Homo sapiens: one gene and its partners. The protein of the gene in region 3 interacts with the protein of the main gene of each other region in a biochemical or structural test. Each region holds a gene or a part of one and is shown on either strand. Other genes may lie near its edges.

Region 1 (7,742 bases), on a different chromosome or scaffold from region 3:
CCATGTTGTTGCAAATGACAAGATCTTCTTTTTCGTGGCTGAATAGTACTTCCATTGTGTGTAAGTACCACATTTTCTTTATCCATTCATCTGTTGACGGACACTTAGGTCGCTTTCAAATTTTGGCTATTATGAATAGTGCTTCAACAAACATGGGAGTGCAGATACCTCTTCGGTACATTGATTTCCTTTCTTTTGGGTATATACCCAGCAGTGGGATTGTTGGATCATGTAGTAGCTCTATTTTTAGTTTTTTGAGGAACGTCCAAATTGTTTTCCATAGTGGTTGTACTAATTTACATTCCCACTATAGAAACTTTAATCTTCTGAATTCTGGTAGTTAAAGATTACGACTAGCTCAACTTGATGTTAAAAAGCTCTTTTTTTTTTTTCTTAAAGTTGACATCTCTCTTAATTGTTGACTTCCTAGTATCACCAGGTTATCTGCTCTCTGTTCCTTGGGCTACTGTATCACCTTTTTTTTTTTTTTTTTTTTTTTGAGACTGAGTCTCACTCTGTTGCTCAGGCTGGAGTGCAATGGTGCGATCTTGGCTCACTGTAACCTCTGCCTCCCGGGTTCAATTCTCCTGCCTCAGCCTCCCCAGTAGCTGGAACTACAGGTGTGTGCCACCATGCCCTGCTAATTTTTTGTACTTTTTAGTAGAGACGGGATTTCGCCATATTGGCCAGGCTGATCTCGAACTCCTGACCTAGTGATCTGCCTGCCTTGGCCTCCCAAAGTGCTGGTATTATAGGCATGAGCCACTGTGCCCGGCCCTACTTGCCTTTCTTAGCTCCTTTGGTACCTCTGCCTGCTCCTTCAATGTTTTCTCCAAGCCTTAAGTGCTGACGGATATTCCTCAGAGTTTTAACTTCTCCCTCTGTATACTCTCCCTGATTGGTCCATCCACTTCATGGCTTCAACTGTCATTTATATAATGATGACATTCATCTGTATTTCTAGCCCAGCTCCTTCGCTGAGCATCAGACTTAACTTTGATTCTGCTGGAAATCTCTATTTGGATGTCCCACAAATACCTCAAACCAATTATACCCCAAACTAACCTTACCTTCCCCTATAAACCAGTTACTTCTCCTTTACTCTCCACCTTGGTTACTGGTACACATCCAAGTCTCCCAAGCTAGGAATCTGGTAAACATCCTGAATGCCTTTTTCCCTCACCATACCACACCCTAATTCTACATCCAATTATCCACCAAGCTCTGCCTTTCTAACCCTTCACTTTTCTTTTCATTCCTATTACCAATACCCTCATTCACATTTTCATCCTCTCACCCGGACAAATTCATGCCACCACTCTCCAAAAGCTAATCTGTTTGCACGCCTGCCAGAATGATCCATCTAGGATATACCATTGTCACTTTTTTCACTTAACTTTCCAATATCTACAGTATATAGTCCAAACTGTAACAACTGTGGTCTGACCTTGTCTACCTCATTCCAGGTTTATCTCTCACCATTCCTCAACTTGCATCTTAATATTCTAGCAAAATTGGACTTTTTTTTTTGAGATGAAGTCTTGCTGTCGCCCAGGTTGGAGGGCAATGGTGCGATCTTGGCTCACTGCAACTTCCGCCTCCTGCGTTCAAGTGATTCTCTTGCCTCAGCCTCCTGAGTAGCTGGGATTACAGGTGCGCACCACCACACCCAGCTGATTTTTGTATTTTTAGTAGAGATGGGGTTTCACCATGTTGGTCAGGCTGGTTTCAAACTCCTGATCTCAGGTGATCCGCCCATCTCAGCCTCCGAAAGTGCTGGGATTACAGGCATGAGCCACCGCGTCTGGCCAAAATGAAACTTTTTTAGTTTCCTGTATGCTGTTTCTTGAGTTCCTTGGCTCATGCCTCTATGCTAACTTCTCAGCCCAATTTACATTCTAAGAGGTCATTTCTTTCATGAATTGCCTTTCATAATCTCTTTGGGTTAGGATAGTTAGATACTCCTTAAATACCCTGAATAAGTTTTATTACCATACTCAACAGGTTATTTTATAATTATTTGATGGTGTCCTGACTAGAGTGTGAACAGATGGTCTCATTTATTTATTTGTTATCATTAGCAAGCAAGAACAGACATTCAATGAATGAATACATTTCTTCAAAGCCCATAATCCAAGTGAATAGCAGGATTCATCTATTCATTCAAGATGTTTCCTGGATTCCAGCTCCATGGTAAGTTTTTAGATTACGGAAGACATTTTTCTTTTTCAAAACCTTCTAACTGCTATTATATTGTTTATATAATAACAAAAGTAATTTTAATCAAACACAAATATATCTACATCACAGGAAACTTTTGAGGTATTAAGCAAGCAAATAAAATGCTTTAAGTCTTTGGCTGGCAAAAACTATTAAACATAATTTTTTCCCCCACAAAGGTGATGTCAGCAAAATTCCACAGATTACATTTTGCGTATTTATTTACAAGATGGTAAGATCATCTTGTAAATAAATACGCAAAATGTAATCTATGGAATAAACTGTTTAAACAAAAAAAGAGAGGCAACATTAGGATTAAAAACTTTCATAAAGAATAGCATTAGCTCAAAAATAGGAATGCCACACTGCAAGAACTGCTTACATAATTAAAAGCAGAAGAACTCAAATATTAGTTATAAATAGACAAAGATCATAAAATAAAATACGTCTGGAACAATCCATTTTAACTAGGTTCTGTATTTCCAGTACAACATACCTGTAGTTTGATTGGGGCACTTTGTCAAGACCTCTGGTGCTCTGAATCCTGGTGTACCTGCCCTAGGGGCAACCTGCTGACGCCTTATGATGAAATAAGATTTCTCTAGTTATGTTAAAGTTGAACTATGTAAGTCTAAAAAATAACATTCATCAATTTAGTTCACAGTAAATTTTGCCTTGATACCTATATAATAAGTGTTACTATAAAGTAAATGATAATCTAGTGTGATAAAAATCCTAGATTTTTCTTCTTCTGTTTTTTACCCCCTCTACTAGTTCCCCGGACTTACTCCAGAAAGGTTTAAAATAACCTCCAAGAATAAAAAGCAGTAGTGGATAATAAGAGCCATAATAGAAAAAATAGAACCCAATAGCAATTCACAGGTATAAAAATTCATTTGTTTGGAGTAATTGATCACAGATACACTTATATATTTGAGTTAATCAAGAAAGGCTTTATGAAAGCCAAGCCTTGAAGGAAAGGAAGAAATTTATGAGTCAAAGAGTTGGAGGTGGGAGTAAAAGAGGAGCTCTACTATTTGGTTCTGGTTACTCCACATAAGCGGGAATAAAAAGAGAAAACAGAAAAGACTACATCAGCAATCAAAATGTGTGATTCTAAGCTTCTAAAAGCCACCCCGTCCCACTTATTTGCATATAAGAGCAAATGTGTTTTCCAGAGTATATCCATATTAAATAAATAATATATGAAAACTGTTATCATTTGCTCTTCAACATACTACTGCTCTGCATCAAGGCCCATTGCAGTTCACTGATCTGAACTGATCCCTTGCACTCACAAAATTATCCACCCAAGTCAATGCAATTTCTAATGGCAGCATGCTGGTGATTTTATAACACCATCAAAACACATTACCTTGAAAGGCAAATACTACAAACTTTATCTGTTGCATAGCAGTCACAGGTCAGGCTAGCTGGGCAAGAACTGGCAGTTTTCCTCATCACAGCACTATTCATAACTTTTGTAGAAATAGCCTTCTTTTTTGTTGCTAACTTTCTAGACAGTACATCCACAGTCTTTGACTGCTTCATGAGCTGTAAAAGAAAAGTCTCATTTTTCTATTTTCATGATATTAAACATGATGTCCTAAAATGCTAGTATGGCAAAAAGCAATAGCGGAAGCATAACTTTAAAAACTGCTGAATGGCTATTGGACTGTAAATAAACTGTTGTCTATTAAAATGTTTAAGGTCTTCTTGGGTTTTTCTGTAAAGTCACCTTATATTAAAATTTACTAATTAGTCCTAGCTTGGCCAATATTTGAGTTATACTTTATTAGAACTTTTCCTGATATATTACAGAAGTATAAAACAGTTATGTTCTAGTGTCTAACTCCATTTCAGAACTGTAAACTGCACAAGTACGTTGGCTAAAATCACAGTTTTAATTTGTTGCTCATGCTGTCTAGCTGTCACAAGATATCATAAGTCAATCTGAAATCATCTACATTGATGATGATTTTGTTAACTTTACAAACATCTTTACACTATCAACTATGTGTCAGAATAGTTAGCTAACTGTATGGAGCTCACACTCTAGCAATGACAGAAAGCCCTTAATGTTCTAAATGTTCCTCTAGAGAAAGACAGTAATAGCTAACCAAAAATGAGAAAAAATTCCACCAGAAAAGTTCAGAAAAAAACTGGAGAAAACAAGTTTTGACTAAATGCTTAAAGCAGTAATACCTTCTGCCAAAGCCAAACTCTAGTTTAAAAAAATTTCTGATAATAAATGTTAATCTAGTTATTACCTAAATTCTCTTCAGTGTATGACTGACTGACCATTATGCTATTAAGCTACATTACTTACTTTCACTGCAGGGCTCTCATGTGAAATGGAGCTGTGTATATTGAAATTTCTTTCTCCAAAAACAGAGCGCTGGACAGAAAGGCCTACAGATCCCTCCTACAATACCAACAAAAACAAGGAAAATAAGGATTATATCTGTAACACTTTCTGCCAGCTGTACTCTGCCATAGTTTTGAAAGAGTTAAGTGAGATGAAACAAAAACAGCTGCATCCAAGTCATTCTCAGGCACCAAACCACTTCTGTGAAAGGAGAAAATAGTCTAGACAGAACTCAACACCCATACAATGTTATCATAGTCCACAAATATATATAACTAAAAAAAAATTCAAAAACCACCTGCATGGATGTTACATTTTGCTGTGCAGCTAAAATGGAGATAGACACTTCAGAATTCCTCCCCTATAACTAATGCTTTCTTTTAAAAAGGATAATTAATCTGAACTTTTTAACATGCAGGGAAAATTTAATATTTTCCATTTTTGTCATAAAATATGATTTCATAATAGTTAATGACAGATGTTATAAACTGACAAAGTAAATTTTAGTTTTAAAATAGTAACCAAAATGATTCAGTACAAATCTTAGTGAAAATTTAATCAAATGAATACATATAACAAATGCAAAAAAAAGTTTTTTAAATTATAAGTACTATCCTAGTATTCTATCTCCCTCTGTTGGTTGAAGGAGTATATTTCTAAAACAGTGTCGGTACTTAAGAAATAAAAGAGATAGAACCTTTCCGTCTTTTCCTTGTTTAATCTGAATTTGTGCATTTGTGTAGGGTCTTTTAACAGAAGCTTTTGTGGTGGACTGCTGATCCAGCTCCTTAGGTACTGGGCCACTCAGTGGAATCTTGTTTCCTGTGATTATGTGGGATTTGTTTTGTGAACACCTTTCCTGCTGAGCTTCAGACTGGACAAATTTAAGAAGCTCTATTTTCGTATCATGGGTTCCTTGGGCCAAACCAAAGTCTACCAAGGCATACCTAAGAGACAAAATTAAGCATTTTTACTTATCTGTAGCAATTAAAGCTTAGTAACATTGTAATACTCTCAAACCATCCTCATAAAAACTGTAATTCTTTTTGGGATCAATTAGGAATTTATAACATTCTGGAAAAAAGAAAAAAAAATAAGTTTTCCAGACAAAGTAAGAATTTAACAGCTAACCAGGATTGAAAATTAAGAGTTGTCCCACAATCAAATTTTCTTTTTCCAGTGGTCTGTGTTAATAAGGCAGAAGAGGAATACATAACATAAACACAGTCCGTTGTTCTCTGATGGTGGCAGAGATGGCATCATAGCAGATAATTTCTAGTTAAGAAAGCTTAAAAAAATTAAAATCATGGTTTTAAAATCTGATCCAATTAAAGAAAATTAAAAAGTCAGGCATATAAAAGCTCAAAAAAGAAGTTATAATATTATTATGTTTAATATGATCCATTATATAGAGGTATTTATGTTATTTTTAGCTTATAATTTCTCTATAATTATAATCAGCATTAAAAAGTATACATAAAAATAAAACTTTTGTGTTAAAACAGGAAATTGGCTATCATGTGGTCCAATCCCCTCACTTACTAGAAAAGAAAAATGAAGTCCAGAGATAAGAGACATGTCTAAGGTCAAAAATTATTAGACTCTAAGTCTGTTAGTTCATGCTATTTCCACTGAACCATAGTACATCTAATAATGTACATTATTCCACTAATACAATTTTATCTTCTTCATCACCAAATTTCCCTTTCCAATCACAAAGAAACTGAAACAGAAATAATCTGTGCATGGCTATTGCAGTATGTTATATTATATCTAAGAGATATAAGTCAGAGGATACAAAGTAGCAGATATGTAGGATAAATAAATCTAGACCTAATGCACACTCTGAAGATTACAGGTAATAAAACTGTACTGTATATGAGATTCATACTAAATGAGTAAATTTTAGCTGCTCTTGCCGTAAAAACAAAAATAAGATGGGTAACTGAGATAAATATTTGCTTCACAATAGTAACTTTTGTACTATATATAACATCATGTTCAATACCTTAAATATAGACAATAAAATTGTTTTTTAAAAGAAATAGGATAAATATTTTCTAGTAACTCTTCATACTTACTTTTTCAGGCGCCTATTATATAAAAAATTGCTGGGCTTAACATCACGGTGAACAATACCAAACTGATGAATGCGTTTCAAAGCTTTGAACAGATTAAGCATATATTCCCGTACTTCTTGAAAGGAAAGAGAATTCAGAATGTCCTAAAACAAAGTTACAAATGAAATGAGTTACAAATATTGTTTGCAATTAAATATTTAGCTAATAAAAATTCAAGAAATATTAAAACCTACCAAAAACGACTCATGCTCCAGATATGGCATAGCAATAACTACATGATCATTCTTCCTAAAGCAGTATTTAACTCCCATGACATTATCTTGCCCCCTAGTGGAAAAATGCACAAGGAACTTTTAGAAGAAAGGTCAGAGGGACTGAAACTTTATGCCTAATTTTAAAAACCGCAATTTTAGCAATGCATACATATTGCTAGAAAACTGACTTAAATCATCATCACATAATATAAACACAAGTGACTTGTGTTCTCGTGTTAAAGTTTTCTTTTAAAACAAAAATGGCACCAGTTTTGAAGTTACTATAATAATTCAAACGAGGTAATTATAGTTGTGACTGGGGAAGCAGCAGAATGAGAAAAAAGGGAAAAGATTAATAAGACTTAGCAGATAAGATGGTAACAGTAATAAATAAATCAAGGTCACTAAACTAATAGATCAATGAGCCAGGATTTGAACCCAGGCATTTTGCTCCAGATATATGTTCTTAATCACTATGTTACACTGCTTCATAAAAGAGGAAAATAGGACAAAGGTGATTTCTATGATTTTGAGCCTGAGTAAGAAAACAATAGAGATACCAAAAAATGAGTAGAGAAGCCAGTAAAAGAAGCATCTAAAACCAGACCTCATCATTTTGATAGAGTTATCTAGACAAGGGACTAAGCCTTAAGTGAGAAGACAAGTGAGAAGTCAGTGAGAGTACCTGCAGAGAAGTGATACCTACAGACATGAAAATTAATAGCGAGAAAAGAAAACTGAGCTTGGAAGAAGCCAAGTTAGAGAGCCAAATAAGAAAGGAATTTTGAAGGAAGAGTTATTAGCATGGAAGTCAAAGAG
Region 2 (7,742 bases), on a different chromosome or scaffold from region 3:
GAACAGATGACGGGAAGTGGCCAGACCATGCAGCACCTTGTTGGTCTTATTAAAGATTTGGGACTTTATCCTAGGAACAATGGTGAATTTTAAGTATGGGGTGACATTACATGTGTGTTTTGATAAGATCATTCTAGTTGAAGGTCACAGCATGGCTTCAAGAAGACTAGACTATGATACAGGGAGATCAGTGGCAAGCAACAGAGCATGTTTTAAACAGACAAGACTTGTGATGATGATGGATGGAAAGAGGATCATGAGTGTGTGTGTGTGGGCAGTGGTGGGCAAGGGACAGAGGACATGGGTTCCCTTTGGACTTAAGAGTAGGGCACTTTTGGAGCACCCAGGTGGAGACATCAGGTGGGTCTCAAGCTTACTCAAGCAGTAAACTTCAAACCTCAGAGAGCAGCACGCAGTACCTGCAGCTGTCAGTGAGGAAGGACAAATTTCCAACTGGAGAGAATACAGGATAAGAATGCCCAGCGCCCAAGTTTGACTAAGTCAATACTTCATGGCTAAACAGGAGAGCAACAGGACACCAGAAACTGAGCAGTGACTAGAGCCGTAGAAGATATACCAGAGAAAGGGAGAGCATCTATCATAAAGTCAAGAATGCTGAATCCCAGCCGGGCGCAGTGGCTCACGCCTGTAATCCCAGCACTTTGGGAGGCCGAGGCAGGCAGATCACTTGAGGTCAGGAGTTCGAGATCAGCCTAGCCAACATGGTGAAACCCCTTCTCTACTAAAAATAAAAAAGTTATCCGGGCGTGGTGGTGGACACCTGTAATCCCAGCTACTCGGGAGGCTGAGGCACGAGAATCGCTTGAACCCAGGAGGTCGAGGTTGCAGTGAGCTGAGATCAAGCCACTGCGCACTCCAACATGGGCCACAGAGTGAGACTCTGTCTGGGAAAAAAAAAAAAAAAAAAGAATGCTGAATCCCGCCACTGAGACATCATGCAAGATAAGAAATGAAGGCTGTTGGGATTCTTGGCACTATTTAGGAAGCAAACCAGACTTCACGTGGTGGAGTAAGAGAGGTGACAGGATGGAGAAGATAGACAATTCAGAAAGTTTAGGGAGTAGGGAGAAGAGTGGGATGGGCAGTAACTACAGCGCAACACGGGATCAATTAGAGTCTTTGCTTTAAGATGGGAGAAGCATCCCCAGCTGGAGAAGAATCCAAAGGACAGGAGTGGCTAGGTGCCCAGGAGGAACAAGGGAACTGAGGGAGGGATGGACAAGACAAGAAGACCACTGAACTGGGAGGGATTAAGGCAGGTTCAGCCTCACAACTACTTAAGAAACCAGGAGGTTTCCATTTTCTGTGAAGAGGACGTCCTGGCCGGGAGGGAAGGGGTGGAGGCCTGAAATAGCTGCTGAGGGCAGTAAGAAAAAGAGTTGCCCAGAAGAGGGACGAGTCACTTACCCTCAGTAGAAACTACCTAGAGTCCAATGTCAGGACTGTAGTGAATTCCTAGTGGGAAAAAGTAACTCCTGGTAACTTTGAATCTCTAGCTTCTAAACCTCCTTTCCCATTGAAAGAAAATGGTTACTTTTGTATGTAATGTGTCTGCGGATAATGTAAGTTGGGTTTTTTTGAGACCGAGTTTCGCTCGTTGCCCAGGCTGGAATGCAGTGGCACGATATCGGCTCACACTGCAACCTCCGTCTCCCAGGTTCAAGCGATTCTCCTGCCTCAGCCTCCAGAGTAGCTGGAATTACAGGCACCTGCCACGACACCCGGCTGATTTTTTTTTTTGTATTTTTAGTAGAGACAAGGCCAGCCTGTTCTTGAACTCCTGGCCTCAGGTGCTCTGCCTGTCTTGGCCTCCCAAAGTGCTGGAAGTACAGGCGTGAGCCACTGCGCCTGGCCCTAAGTTGTTTTTTTTTTTTTTAAGTGAATGCCAGGTATGGTATTCTAGCTATGGTGTTCTAACGGCAACAACAGCTAACATTTCTTGAGAGCTTACTGTGTGCCAGACAGTGCGGCAGGCACTATTACAACCTCATTTTGCGGAGACAAAAAGGGAAGGTGCCCTGAGAGGGGCGTGCCCAAGTGCCACAGTTGGAAGTGGCGGAAGCAGGACATACCCCCACGCAGTCTATGTGGGGGAAACCAGGTGCACTGTCCTCTCTCCACAATCTTCCCTGACCCAGCATGCAAAGTGTGCAATGCACTGAAGGATGGGGCCCTGGGTGACAAGAGTGTGGAGAAGGGGCTGGGGGAACATGGCTGATGGGGGGCCACTGGCACCAGGAACGTTGGAAGGCACCCGTCTGGGGTAGGAGCCTAGGATTGAGTCCTTATGCTGAGAAGGTTGGAGGGGAGAGAAGCAAGACATAAGGAGAGCAGCTGGAGAAGATGGGATGGGCTGGTTTAAAACAGAAGTCATGATTGACCCTCAGTGGAGAGGCCTCACAAAGGTACCAAGGGCATCCTCTCATTCCCCCAAACAAAACTACAAGTATTGAGTATAAAGAAACCTTAATATTCATCTTTTAATGGCTTTCAAACATTAACAAATAATGAAACTAATTTGTAGGTCCAAGCCAGTCAGTTTTCTTTTTAATGAATAAAAGTGTTTTACATGTAGTGAGGGAGGAGCATGGTGTCGGTTTTTCACAAAACACAGGAATGCGTGTACATACCAGGGAGTGGAGTAAAATGTATTTCTCACTACTAGGAGCAGAAAGTTCGAAAGCCACTGATCTAATTCAACACTCCCATTTTAGAATTTCAGAATGGAGAAAACAGAGGCTCAAAGAAGCCAAACAACTTGTCCAACTTACTTAATAGCAAAGCCGAGAAGAGCATCCAAGTCTTTAATAGTTCTCTGGTAATTTCCTCACCAAACCAGAATCTCCAAATGTAAATACCTCTGGGAAAAACAGTGCTGACTTTAATCCACATTAGAGTAAATAACAGTGGAGTAGTAAGTAAGCTGATCTTTTAGATCTGCTGCCTGGAGCAAGTTTTGGTAAAGGAAACAGTAGCTGAATGAATTCAGGGGGCAGCTGTGGAGCTAAAACAAAATAAATCTGAGGGAAAGCACTGGGTTGCAGGGTGTGGCCCAGCAGGCCCAGGACAGGGCTTGGTGTGGTAGAATAAAGGGACTTTTATCTTCCTTAGAGTCTGTATATCATCAGGACAACTAGTTCTAGACAAGGAGGCTGCTTCCATGTCTGAGAAGGTGGCTCAGGGCCATGGTGCTTTGCTCATCTAGTTTCAACAAATTTTATTAAATGAGAAGTTCTGAATAACAGATGCCTTCACAAATCTCTGTCCCTGCCAGACTCCATCTCTTTAATGAAAACATCATTGTTGGGTATTTATCATTTGTTGTATAATTCTATTTCAAAGCTATAGAAGATTCAGAGTCAGGTCCATGTTTCTCTACTTGAAGGCAGTGGTGCTGGGGGACTGGGAGAGGGTAGTTCCTAGGAGACCAGAGAACTAGCTAGAGTAAGGGATGGACTGCCAAAACAAAGAGGAGGGATGCTGGTGGCAAACATTTCTAAAGGAATGCCTCTCTAGACACCAGAGCTATGAGCCTCCTCTTAAACTAAGTTAGAATTCAGGCCAGACAATTGGGCCACGTTCATTGGGCCAGGGCCCAATCACCAACAAGCTCCCGGCTCCTTTCCTAAGTGACTGCACCAAAATAGCAAAGGCATGAGATGTCTAAAGAGTATCCTACACAATTTCCAGGAAGTTTTTTTTTTTTTTTTTTTGAGACGGAGTCTCGCTTTGTCCCCCAGGCCGGAGTGCAGTGGCACGATCTCTGCTCACTGCAAGTTCTGCCTCCCGGGTTCACGGCATTCTCCTGCCTCAGCCTCCCGAATAGCTGGGACCACAGGCACCCGCCACCATGCCCGGCTAATTTTTTGTATTTTTACTAGAGACGGGGTTTCACCGTGTTAGCCAGGATGGTCTTGATCTCCTGACCTCGTGATCCACCCGCCTCGGCCTCCCAAAGTGCTGGGATTACAGGCGTGAGCCACTGCACCCAGCCTCCAGGAAGTTTTTTATTTCAATGTGATGTAATTAATTTGGACCCAAGCTCTGGGATGGACAGCTCTGAAAGCTCAAGCAGATGTCTTTCCAATGGTATTGAAGAAGGGGGCCAGGCACGCTGGCTCACACCTGTAATCCCAGCGCTTTGGGATGCCAAGGTGGGCAGATCACTTGAGTCCAGGAGTTTGAGACCAGCCTGGGCAACACGGCAAAACCCCGTCTCTACAAAAATTATAAAATAAATAAATAAAAAAGGAAACAAGTCTCATACTGCTATGGGGAAAGAAAAAAAAAAAGAAAGATGGCCAACTGTGTAAGTCTAGAGTAAGCCACCTTGAGAGGCTGGTGGTGCAGCAGCAGCAGGAAAGAGGGAATTGGGGCTGTGGTGTGCTGTCATAACACAGGCTGCTGTTATGGGGACTAGGATTTGTCCCCTTGAATTTATCTCCTCCTCCCCTTGACCTGGCCAATTTTATAACCATTCCTTCCGTTCATTAGCTCAGGCACAAGACGCTAGAGGGAAAAACTTCTGAAACTCAAAGCCACTATGCTGCTGGTTCATTCCCCAGGAAACACGCATGGTAGAAAAGCAGCAGGCCAAAAACTAGAGATTCCAGGATTATCTGTCATTTTCAAAGATCTGGGCTCTGAAAGGCTGATGTGAGCCACTGGGTGCACAGCTGCCCCGCCTTTGGTTCAAGCCTCAAAGCTCTAACCGTTGCAACCCAAAGCTCTTTCTATCTCTGAGATGACATCTAGAACCTAAGAGTGACCATTCAACTACAAGATACACAGAAGGCTTTGACATGTTCTGAGTACACAACGAAGAATTTCAGCTGGCTATACAGAACTCTAGACGAGAAGTGCTTCATACTAAACCAGTAACAAGGATAATTTCTCTTCCTATGGAGGTTCCTGGGTTGAGGCTGATTTCCACTAGGCACCAATTACTTACAGGGCACAGAACACATAAAAGGACTTAAAAAGACCCTGAGAGTACCACCCAAATATATGGCTTGCCATTTGCTTAAACAAAGCAAAACACTAGATCCCTGGGGCCCACCCTCCAATCTACTGAACCACCTTTTCAGCAAACCTCTTCTGCAAAGGGGGCAGATAGTAAACTTTATCAAGAGCCAAAATTAAGAACACTACATAGGGACTTTTATAACAAGAGAAAAATCTAACACATTTCCACAATTCTTTTATTGATAAAGTTCAGAATATATTGAGTACAATTTTTTTTTTGTAACGAGATCTGTTAACGAGACAAGTGGATTTCTTATTTTTTGGGAGAATAACATTTCAAGTCATTGGGATTCAAAGAGTGTTCCATACCATCAAATTGACTGCAACGTTTATATGTACAAATAATTCTTAGCTCATGACTGTACAAAAATTGGGAGCTCAGTTATAGTTTGGTGATTGCTGTGGTACTCCTGTGATTGGGGTGGAGCCCAGGAATCTGCATTTTACATGCCTCTCACGTGATTCTGGTAATGGGCCATGGACCCAATGGACTATCCAATCCTCGGAATCTCTGTCCACCAAAGGGGCCTGTGGTTTTGCAGTGCGAGAACCCGGCTGTGCCACCTACCAGTTGCTCAACCTCTCCAAAAATCAGATGATTCATCCTCACAACAGGGGTGGCATTGCACTGCTTGGCCTACCCTTAAAGAGTTGCTGGGATGATTAAGTGAGATGATCCATGAGGTGCTATGAGCATACTATGTCCCAGATACTAAAGACATGCCAGTTATGTTGAGTTTTTTTGGCTGCAGATGCAGACTGCCTGAGCAGCTCCTGCTTGTCTTCTCCTTACTCAAAATGTGTCCCCCAGCACCTTGAAGGCCAGATCCACTTCAACCTAACCCACTGTGATGTGCTAAAGCAAACTCAGTGCAAGGCTTCATAAAATGATAATCCACAGCCCCTGGTCCTGAACCTCCTGGCCCTCTAATATCTCCAACCAGGATGCTATCCACTCTTCATTTCAGCGTCTTCAATAATAGAAAACTCATTCTCTTTCTACGGTGGCACCACTCCAAAGCTGGAGAAGAAAAAGCTCTTCCTTACAGTATCTTAAGAAAAAAAGGGTGTTTCAAAGGAGGCAGTAGAGTGTAGAGGTTGAGTATGCAGACTGGCTGAGTTTGAATCCTGGTTCTGCCACTCACTGGTCACATGATAACCCCTGTATGCCTCAATTTCCATATGCACAATGACGATGATAATAATAATACCTACCTCATAGTGCTGTTGTGGGGACTAAATTAGTTGATACATGTAATCCACTTAAGAAATGTGCCAGACACAGCGTGGTTGCTATGTAAGCACTAGCTAATATTGTTATTATCCTAAACCATGGAGGAGCTCAAAGTAATGCCTGGAAGCACCCTGATATGTCTCCGAGACTAAAACTGTCATATAGACAGCATATACTGAGGGCCATATCAAACCAATTTTGTCATCATTTACTGATTAAATAGGATTATTCCGTTTTACAGGTGAAGAAACAAAGCTTCAAAAAGGTAGGTTAAGCTCACCAGCCCAAGGTCACAAGGGCAGGTAAACGTATCCTACCTCCTTGTGGCAGGAGGAATTCAAACCCAGGTCTGTGTAATTCCTAAGCCCATCTTCATCATGGAGCCCCTCAGACTCGAAACTACTATCAGCAGCAGAACTCAACTGACTATGACCACAGGGGAACTCAGGCTCAATTTTCTGCCTGCGAGTTCCTGGTTGGCTTGCATAAACTGTAGTTAATATCATGCTACTTGAACCCAATTAGGCAGTAAGTCAGCCTGGAAAACATCATGCGATGTATTCCAAAGGTCAAAGTAAAAGCTGGCTTCCAAGGCAGCCTCTGCTGGACACTGCCATGAAAGTTAGTTTCTGCACAGATACCAGAGTTCAGCTCGTGAGGTGCTTAACCAGCACCTATATCGGCTTTTTAAAATTCTCAGAGATGCCAGCATCGGAGGACCCGACGCGACGAATTGCCTGGCTCCTAAGTCAACATCCGGAGAAAGGCGGTTTACTTTTTTCAAAAGCAAACCTTCATCCCTCTCTTTCGCTTTAGGATCTCATTACTATTGTAGCTGCCTTCTCCCAGGCAAAAATAAAAGGGGGAAGGAGCAGGTTTAGACCGAGGAGGAGGGTTCCCCTAGCCTGCAGGGCGCTGCAACATCCACCTGAAACACGGAGCTCGACCTACCTTCCCGGAGAGCCCAGCCCGGGAGGGCGTTTCCCCAACGGATCGACAACTCTTCCCTCCCGGGGAACAGGCTGCTGTCCTTGGCTTCAGTCAGGGCCACTAGAGTCGCGTGCGCGACACCCCTCACCCCCGCCAAAAGAACCTCATGTTTAATGTTCCCCTTACTCTATCACTTCCGCCGAAAGAGCAAACACCAGAGCGATCGGTTAGTCCTTAAGGCCACATTTAACTACGTCTGAGCGCCTGCAGGAGGAACGGCGAAACCCCGGAGAGGAGGCGGGGGAGGCAGGGAGCGCGTGGGGGGGGGCATTTGCACAGAGGATCGTCGTCCTCCCGGCGCCGCGGCCGCCGTGACTCTCCAGCACAGCCTCAGGCCGTTGGCGCGGGGCGGAAACCCCCATCGGGGCTCATAGCACAACTGGGGGTCCCCAAAGCCGGCTCCCCCTGCCTCCTCCGCGCGGGAGGCCGTCGGGGTGATGGCGCAAGACTCCGCTCCCCCCGCCCCCCACAG
Region 3 (8,438 bases):
CTGTCCAACACGGTGAAACCCCATCTCCACTAAAAATACAAAAATTAGCTGGGCCTGGTGGCGCGTGCCTGTAATCCCAGCTACTTGGGAGGTTGAGACAGGAGAATTGCTTGAACCCAGGAGGCAGCGGTTGCAGGAGCCAAGATCACGCCATTGCACTCCAACCTGGGCAAAAGAGTGAGATTCCGCCTCAAAAAAAATAAAAAATAAAAAAGAGTTAGGTACCAACTATGAAGCAAGCAAACCAACCAAACCAGAAATGCAGGACTCCTTAAAGGTTCGGAGATAAAGTAGGGGTTGGGGATGGAGTCTCTCTCAGCTGGGATCTCAGGGATCCCTGCCATCAGGGCATGAGGAGGCCTCCCGATAATCGCTTCCCTCATAGCTTCGGTGACTGACAGGCCCTCTGCGGGTGGTTGTGGCCGCTTTCTGCCATAGGCTCTGGGCCAGCCTGAAGCCTTTACCACTTGTAAATTATCTGAAAAGTTGGGATAATATTGCCTTCAAGTGCATCCCAAAACCTCGAGTCTGTGTTCAGAACAAGATCTAGCGTCCTAAATGCAGGGTTTCCTAAATGTTGCACACTGGGTTCATGTGCTCAGTTGTTTTAGAAAGCGGGCAGGATTGTGCCACCATGATGCCCAACGAGGGGACTTCCCAGTTTGCAGACTAAGCTGTGGACATGGAAACAAACTTAATGGAAACATGTGCTTGTGTCCTGTCCTTTTTTTTTTTCTTGAGACGGAGTTTTGTTCTTGTTACCCAGGCTGGAGTGCAATGGCACGATCTCAGGCCACCGCAACCTCTGCCTCCTGGGTTCAAGCGGTTCTCCCGCCTCAGCCTCCGGCGTAGCTGGGATTACAGGCAAGCGTCACCATACCCAGCTAATTTTCTGTATTTTTAGTAGAGACGGGGTTTCTCCATAATGGTCAGCCTGGTCTTGAACTCTCGACCTTAGGTGATCCACCCGCCTCGGCGTCCCAAAGTGCTGGGATTGCAGGTGTGAGCCACCGCGCCCAGCCATGTGTCCCGTTCTTGCTAAATGGCTCACATCACAGGACGAAATTTTGCAAAGCGGCAGCAGCCTGGAAGAAATTCAAGTGATCGAATGTACACTACAGGATGCCCAATGGGGAGAGACTTCAACTCTGATTTTGGGAGATTGAGTGGTGGATTAGGTAGAAGCTGAAATGTGTACATGCCAGTCTGGCACATTTAGTAACTTAGAAGAGGGTACTAGGCTTAGTACCTGAGTGATAAAATAATCTGTACAACAAACCCCCACGACAAGAGTTTACCTATATAACAAACCAGCACATATAAAACAAAGTAGAAGACTGGGGCGGTGGCTCATGCCTGTAATCCCAGCACTTTGGGAGGCCGAGGCAAGCGGATCACCTGAGGTCAGAAGTTTGAGGCCAGCCTGGCCAACATGGTGAAACCCGTCTCTACTGAAAAGATACAAAAATTAGCCAGGCGTGGTGGTGGGCACCTGTAATCCCAGCTACTCAAGAGGCTGACGCAGGAAAATCGCTTGAACCTAGAAGGTGGAGGCTGCAGTAGGCTGAGACCATGCCATTGCCCTCCAGCCTGGGCGACAGGGTGAGACCATGTCTCAAAAAAAAAAAAAAAAAAAAAGATTTGCACCATTTTTACAACATTTCATAAACCTAAAGAGGAAGCCATTTTTTCCTTTTTCATCTTCTCAGGTGAAAGACAAGAAATGAAGTCATTCAGAAAAATAAATGCTCTTGGCCAAGCACAGTGGCTCACGCCTATAATCCCAGAAACTTGGGAGGCCAAGGCGGGTGGATTACCTGAGGTCAGGAGTTTGAAATCAGTCTGGCCATCATGGCAAAACCCCGTCTCTACTAAAAATACAAAAATTAGCTGGGCATGGTGGCGGGTGCCTCTAATCCCAGCTACTTGAGAGGGTGAGGCAGGAGAATTGCTTGAACCCAAGAGGCGGAGGTTGCAGTGAGCTGAGATGGCGCCATTGTACTCCAGCCTGGGTGACAGAGCAAGACTCTGTCTCAAAAATAAATAAATAAATGGTTCCTTAGAGCTCAAAATCCCGAAAGCGAACAAGGTTGGTGGTTTATGGTCCAGGTGGTCTACTGTACCTGCTTACAGGTACAGATTAAATGACCCATCTCAGGATCTACTACTCTCATATAAAGACCCAACATGAACAAACAAAAGTGCTACAAAACCAAAAACATAAAAAGGCACTGTCTCTTCTGGTTCTACATACTTAAGATAAAAAGTAAAAAATTATAAAATCAAAAGACACCACTAAACACCGTGGGACTCGTGACTGATTTTATCAGTTTGGTCCCTAAGACCTTAAGGACACCATTGTGCTAATAAAAAATCAATAACAGAGACAGACCATGCAAAAGTCCCCCTTATGGGGTCCTTAAAAATGGTTCCAGATGGGGTCTCGCTCTGTCACCCAGGCTGGAGCGCGGCAGTGTGATCATAGCTCGCTGCGGCCTCCAACTCCTCAGCTCAAGTGATCCTCCTGCCTCAGTTTCCCAGGTGGCTGGGACTACAGGCATGTGCCACCATGCCTGGATAACTTTTAAAAATTTTTTTGCAGGGCTGGGTGCAGTGGCTCATGCCTATAATTCCAGCACTTTGGGAGGCCAAGACGGGCAGATTACTTGAGGTCAGAAATTCAAGACCAGCCTGGCCAAGATAGTGAAACCCTGTCTCTACTAAAAATATAAAAATTAGCCAAGTGTGGTGGTGCGCACCTGTAATCCCAGCTATCAGGGATGCTGAGGCAGGAGAATCGCTTGAACCTGGGAGGTGGAGGTTGCAGTGAGCCGAGATCACGCCACTGAACTCCAGCCTGGGTGATAGAGTGACTCTGTCAAAAAAAAAAAAAAAAGTAATTTTTTTTCATAGAGATGGTGTCTATGTTGCCCAGGTTGGTTTTGAAGTGATCTTCAAGCGATCCTCCCACCTCGGCCTCTCAAAGTGCTGGGATGACAGGCATGAGCCACTGTGCCTGGCCCCAGGTAAGGTTTTTAAGATGGCTGGCTGTGCTGACCCTACAGAATTCCCCAAGTCATGCTTCCTGCCGTCTCACTGCCACTTCAGTGCTCAGTGTCTTTGCAGCCCCGTCCCTACATTTCTATGCTTAGACAGGAAGGGCACAGAGAAAGCTGGACCTCGAATCTGAAGTGAGGGGTTACAGCACCAGCTCAGATCCTAATTCCCTAAAACGGCTAAGCTATCACTGATTAGATGTGAACAACGAAGGCAAAACAGCAGGGTGTTATTCACACAGTACACCAGGTACACTGTTGATGAATTAAGTCCCAGGGGCATCACAACGAATGCAGAACTGAACACTGTGAGTTTTGATACCAGGAAGAACTCCACGTCGAGTCCCAGGACCCAGCCCGTGGCCCCGCTCACTCTGCCACAAAACACCTGGGTGACCCAGTGGAGACTGACAGCGCTCTGAGATCCGTGAGCACTGATGTGCAGGGACTCCATGGGAGATACTCACTCTGCGGAGGGGCGTGGAGGTGGGGAAGGGACTGGTACTGCTGTGCTGCTTTGGGGGAGCAGGCGGCCCCTCGGGCGAGCTGGTGGAAGAGGGAGAGCTCAGGGACGAATGGCTGAGTACAGAGTCTTCTTCGGGGAAAGATTCCAGCACCTCACTCTCAGGGGTCATGTTCTTGCCTTGGGGTGTGGCTGGAAGGGACTTGATTTGCGGTGGTCTCACAGCCAAGATGTCCTGCAAGACCACCATAGGCACCTTCCCTTTGAACAGGATGCCCCCAGCTTCACTCCAACTGTCCTGCTCCTTTCTGGGGCACATTCTCGGGCCACTCGTCAGCTCCGGGCAGCTCCGTGGCGAACATTCCTGGGAGTCGCCTCTCCTCCCTGCACCTCCACAGCCAACACCCTCCTCCTCTGTTTTGCAAGGAATGTCTGAAAGGGTCTCTCCAGGAAATGCCAACTTGTCGTTCTGAATGGCCTTCAACAACCCCTGCTGATCCCCAGTGTCTTCTCGCTGGCCATTTATTGCCTCCCTGGAGGGAGAGGCTTCAGAATTTAGTTTATTGTGGTCCACAAGACTGTCTGGCTGCTCATTCGAGTCCTCTGTCAAATCAATGATGACTGTGCTCTGGCCAATACTGGTTTCGATTCTATTTCTTAAAAAGTTATCTAAGGGACCCTTCCCGTTGACAAGTTTCGGTCTAAAGTCTATGTCAGAACCCACATGACAGTTGTTTTCCAAGGTGTCCAAAGAGGCCTCTAAATCGGGGCTTTTACTTTGCACAGAAGTACCCTGATCGTCTGACATGTCATCGGCTTTCCCCTTTGGGACAAGATTCAGGCGCTTAAACGGCAGACGGGCTGAAACAAAGACAGAAAGCCATCTCTAGTGAACGTTTAAAGTTACAACCACTCATGAGCTTGAAAATTACTGATTTGTTGGGACATGGGGGTGGGAGATAATTTTAAAGTTTAAAAAGGGACTATCTGGGCCGGGTGTGGTGGCTCATGCCTGTAATCCCAGCACTTTGGGGAGGCCGAGGCAAGCAGATCACAAGGTCAGGAGTTTGAGACCAGCCAGACCAAAATGGTGAAACCCCGTCTTTTCTAAAACTACAAAAATTAGCCAGGCCATGGTGGCACACGCCTGTAATACCAGTTACTGAGGAGGCTGAGGTAGGAGAATCGCTTGAACCTGGGAGGCAGAGGTTGAAGTGAGCTGAGATCCCAACACTGCACTGTAGCCTGGGCGACAGAGACAGACTCCCTCTCAAAAAAAAAAAAAAAAAAAAAAAAAAAAAAGGCCGGGTGCGGGAGGCCAAGGCAGGCGGATCACAAGGTCAGGAGATCGAGACCATCCTGGCTAACACGGTGAAACCCCGTCTCTACTAAAAGTACAAAAAATTAGCCGGGTGAGGTGGCGGGCGCCTGCATTCCCAGCTACTCGGGAGACTGAGGCAGGAGAATGGTGTGAACCCGGGGGGCGGAGCCTGCAGTGAGCTGAGATCACGCCACTGCACTCCAGCCTGGGCGACCTGAGCGAAACTCTCAAAAGAAAAAAAAAAAAAAAAGACGGGGCAGGGGCTATCTGAAGCCAGGTACACTGACTTACATCTATAATCCCAGCACTTCGGGAGGCTGAGGCAGGAGGATCGCTTGAGCCCAGGAGGTAGAGGCTGCAGTGAGCTGTGGTGGTGCAACTACTCTGCAGCCTGGGCAAAAGGGACCTCGTCTCAAAAAAAAAGAGGGGGTGGGGGGTGCTATCTTTTCATTCTATCCTTTTCTAACATCCTAATTTTACTTATTTTTTTTTCTTTTGGAGACAGTCTTGCTCGTCACCCATGTTGGAGTGCAATGGCGCCACCTCAGCTCACTGCAACCTCCACCTCCTGGGTTCAAGCTATTCTCCTGCCTCAGCTTCTCAAGTAGCTGGGATTACAGGCATGCACTACTACACCCAGCTAATTTTTGTATTTTTAGTAGAGACAGGGTTTCGCCATGTTGGCCAGGCTGGTCTCAAACTCCTGACCTCAGGTGATCTGCCCGCCTCCACCTCCCAAGGTGCTGGGACTACAGATGTGAGTCACCATGCCCCGCTTCAACATCCTAACTTAAAAAACAAAATCCTGACAAGCCTTTTAGCAGAGCCATCGCCAGAATTTCAAGAGACATTTGTTTATTTCAGATGCAGTTCATATTCCAAATTTATTTTTAATGGGTGAAAATCTCATTTGATAATAACTGCATCTGGTTCTCAAGTAGAAAATATAGACACATTTGTGGACAGGGTTTTTTTTTTTTCTCCTGGCCTCAGCACCCTAGGCTCTGTTAGGCTTTTCTCATCAATCAAACTGTTCTCCCAGAGTCTGCCAGGCTTCGGGCTGGTTAGGAGGAACACAGAAACACTTTGGAGAGTGAATTTCCCAAAGAACCTATGTTCACTTACTTCAATGCCATTGCATCTTTTATTAACTATTTCATCATGTAATAGACCAAATAAAAACCTGTTTTTTTTTGGGGGGGGTGTGGGGGGAGTTGTTTGTTTTGAGACAGAGTCTTGCTCTGTCACCAGGCTGGAGTGCAGTGGCGCACCCTTGGCTCACTGCAACCTCTTCCTTCCGGGTTCAAACAATTCTCTTGCCTCGGCCTCCTGAGTAGCTGGGACTACAGGTGCCCCCTACCATGCCCAGCTATTTTGTATTTTAGTAGAGACGGGGTTTCACCATGTTGGCCAGGCTGGTTTCAAACTCCTGAGCTCAGACAATCCGCCCACCTTAGCTTCCCAAAGTGCTAGGATTACAGGTGTGAGCCTAGCATCTGGCGTCCCCCTTTTTTTCAAGAGACAGAGTCTTCCTCTGTCATCCAGGCTGAAGAGCAGTGGTGTCATTATAATTCACCGCAGCCTTGAACTCCTGGACTCAAGCACTCCTCCCACCCCAGCCTCTCAAATAGCTGGTTTTACAGGTATGCAACACTGCACCCAGCCCAAGTTTGAAAAACCCAAAACTGTAGTTTCTAAAAATACAATCTGGGCCGGGTGCGGTGGCTCACACCTGTAATCCCAGCACTTTGAAAGGCTGAGGCAGGGGGATCACAAGGTCAGGAGATCGAGACCATCCCGGCCAACATGGTAAAACCCCATCTCTACTAAAAATAGAAAAATTAGCTGGGTGTGGTGGCACGCGCCTGTAATCCCAGCTACTTGGGAGGCTGAAGGAGGAGAATTGCTTGAACCCAGGAGGCGGAGGTTGCAGTGAGCAGAGATCGCACCACTGCACTCCAGCCTGGGCAACAGAATGAGACTCCGTCTCAAAAAAAAAAAAAAAAAAATTACAATCCAACCGCTCATCTGGCCCAAGGGTGAACACACTCCCCGTTTTATGCAGAAGGATTTGGGAGCATTTATCTTCCAGGACAACAGTGGTTCTCTGAGGGGGCAGTTCTACCTCCCAGGGGACATCAGCCACGTATAGAGATATTTTTGGTTGTTACGACTTGGAGGATGCACTTACTGGCATCCGGTGGGAAGAGGCCAGGGATGCTGCTACGCTCCCTACAACATACAGGAGAGCTCCCAGCTGCAAGTTACAAAACACCAATCGTGCATAAGTGGAGGCCTCGGGGTTTACTTGTGGGAACCCCACGAGACATTACTGTGTGAAAAGCATTTTCCCAGCTTCCTGGTCTGAAGAAGGACTGTTTCTCTCCCCTCTAGCTCCAGGCTTCCACTGAGGTCTCCAACAAGAGACAAGGAAGACTATAAACTACGAACAACTCTTTAACCCATTTCCAAATAATTACCTTGTATTAACTTCTTAACTGGAAAAGCTGGTCTATCTTTGCAATCCATGGCTGCAAATAAAAGTGTCAAAGGGTAAACTGTTAAATTCTGCAAATAATCAAGTTAGCAAATACATATGTAGAGCCAATTATGTACAAGGTGGAGGCAATTCTGACCCCTCTGTCCTCGGGGGCCATTTGACACAGTCTAGAGATGTTTTTGGTTGTCATGATGCAGGGAGGGCTCAAAGGGATGCTATTCACATCCAGTGGGTAGAGGCCAGGGATTCTGCTAAATGTCCCACAATGCAATGCACAGCACACCACAATGAAGAATTATATGGGCCAAAAAAAAAAAATTTTTTTTTTTTTTTTGGAGACAGAGTCTCACTCTGTCGCCCAGGCTGGAGTGCAATGGCACAGTCTCAGCTCACTGCAACCTCCGCCTCCTGGGTTCAAGCGATTCTCCTGCCTCACTCTCTCAAGTAGCTGGGACTACAGGCGCATGCCACCACTCTCGGCTAATTTTTGTATTTTTAGCAGAGACGGGGTTTCACCATGTTAGCCAGAATGGTCTCGAACTCCTGACCTCGTGATCCACCCGCCTCAGCCTCCCAAAGTGCTGGCCACGGCGCTTGGCCTCAAAATGTTAATAGGTTGAGAAATCCTACCCTAGACACTGTCATGTCTTGTTTTATTTTCTTTGTGGCATTTAATCTGAAACTTTCGTGTTTATTACGTCTCTCTGGAAACAAAATGCCAACTCTATGACAGCAGAAAGACTTGTTCCATGCTGCACCTATGGTACCTGGTTAGGGTCTGGAATAAATCAGAAAGCCAACTAAGAGAGTAACCGGAACTGTTTCATGAAATGAAAGTGGAATGAGTAAAAGTAGGGAGGAGAGAAAACATCAGATTACCTATTTCATTCCCATGATCCCCAAACATCTTCCTCCAACCCAAGCCCCCATACCACCACCAAATCTGTAAAATCAGAAAAGGGATCCTTTTCTTTTTAAAGAGAATTCATGAAGGTACCACAATTTAAAGCACTTTGAGCTTGCCAGGCAGGAGCTGAAGTGCTGTCAAGAGAAGATAAGACAAAATATTTTCCTGCAAAAAAAATCTCAAGAAACCAT

The links.
Region 1: of the proteins of CHAF1A (region 3) and CDC7, one has a biochemical effect on the other in vitro, tested with the Homo sapiens proteins (one study listed by BioGRID).
Region 2: the proteins of CHAF1A (region 3) and ANP32A form a complex in vitro, tested with the Homo sapiens proteins (one study listed by BioGRID).

What each region holds. Positions count from the first base shown.
Region 1 is NC_000001.11:91,510,851-91,518,592, reverse strand, and holds part of CDC7 (cell division cycle 7-related protein kinase), read right to left. Parts: intron 6,997-7,742; coding exon 6,903-6,996; intron 6,813-6,902; coding exon 6,670-6,812; intron 5,536-6,669; coding exon 5,286-5,535; intron 4,646-5,285; coding exon 4,550-4,645; intron 3,775-4,549; coding exon 3,596-3,774; intron 2,852-3,595; coding exon of another isoform or gene 2,842-2,851; exon of another isoform or gene 2,800-2,841; coding exon 2,717-2,799; intron 61-2,716; exon of another isoform or gene 1-60. UniProt on the Homo sapiens protein: Kinase involved in initiation of DNA replication. Phosphorylates critical substrates that regulate the G1/S phase transition and initiation of DNA replication, such as MCM proteins and CLASPIN.
Region 2 is NC_000015.10:68,810,154-68,817,895, forward strand, and holds part of ANP32A (acidic leucine-rich nuclear phosphoprotein 32 family member A), read right to left. Parts: intron 1-7,742. UniProt on the Homo sapiens protein: Multifunctional protein that is involved in the regulation of many processes including tumor suppression, apoptosis, cell cycle progression or transcription. Promotes apoptosis by favouring the activation of caspase-9/CASP9 and allowing apoptosome formation.
Region 3 is NC_000019.10:4,404,845-4,413,282, reverse strand, and holds part of CHAF1A (chromatin assembly factor 1 subunit A), read right to left. Parts: intron 7,372-8,438; coding exon 7,321-7,371; intron 4,381-7,320; coding exon 3,524-4,380; intron 2,779-3,523; exon of another isoform or gene 2,760-2,778; intron 1-2,759. UniProt on the Homo sapiens protein: Acts as a component of the histone chaperone complex chromatin assembly factor 1 (CAF-1), which assembles histone octamers onto DNA during replication and repair.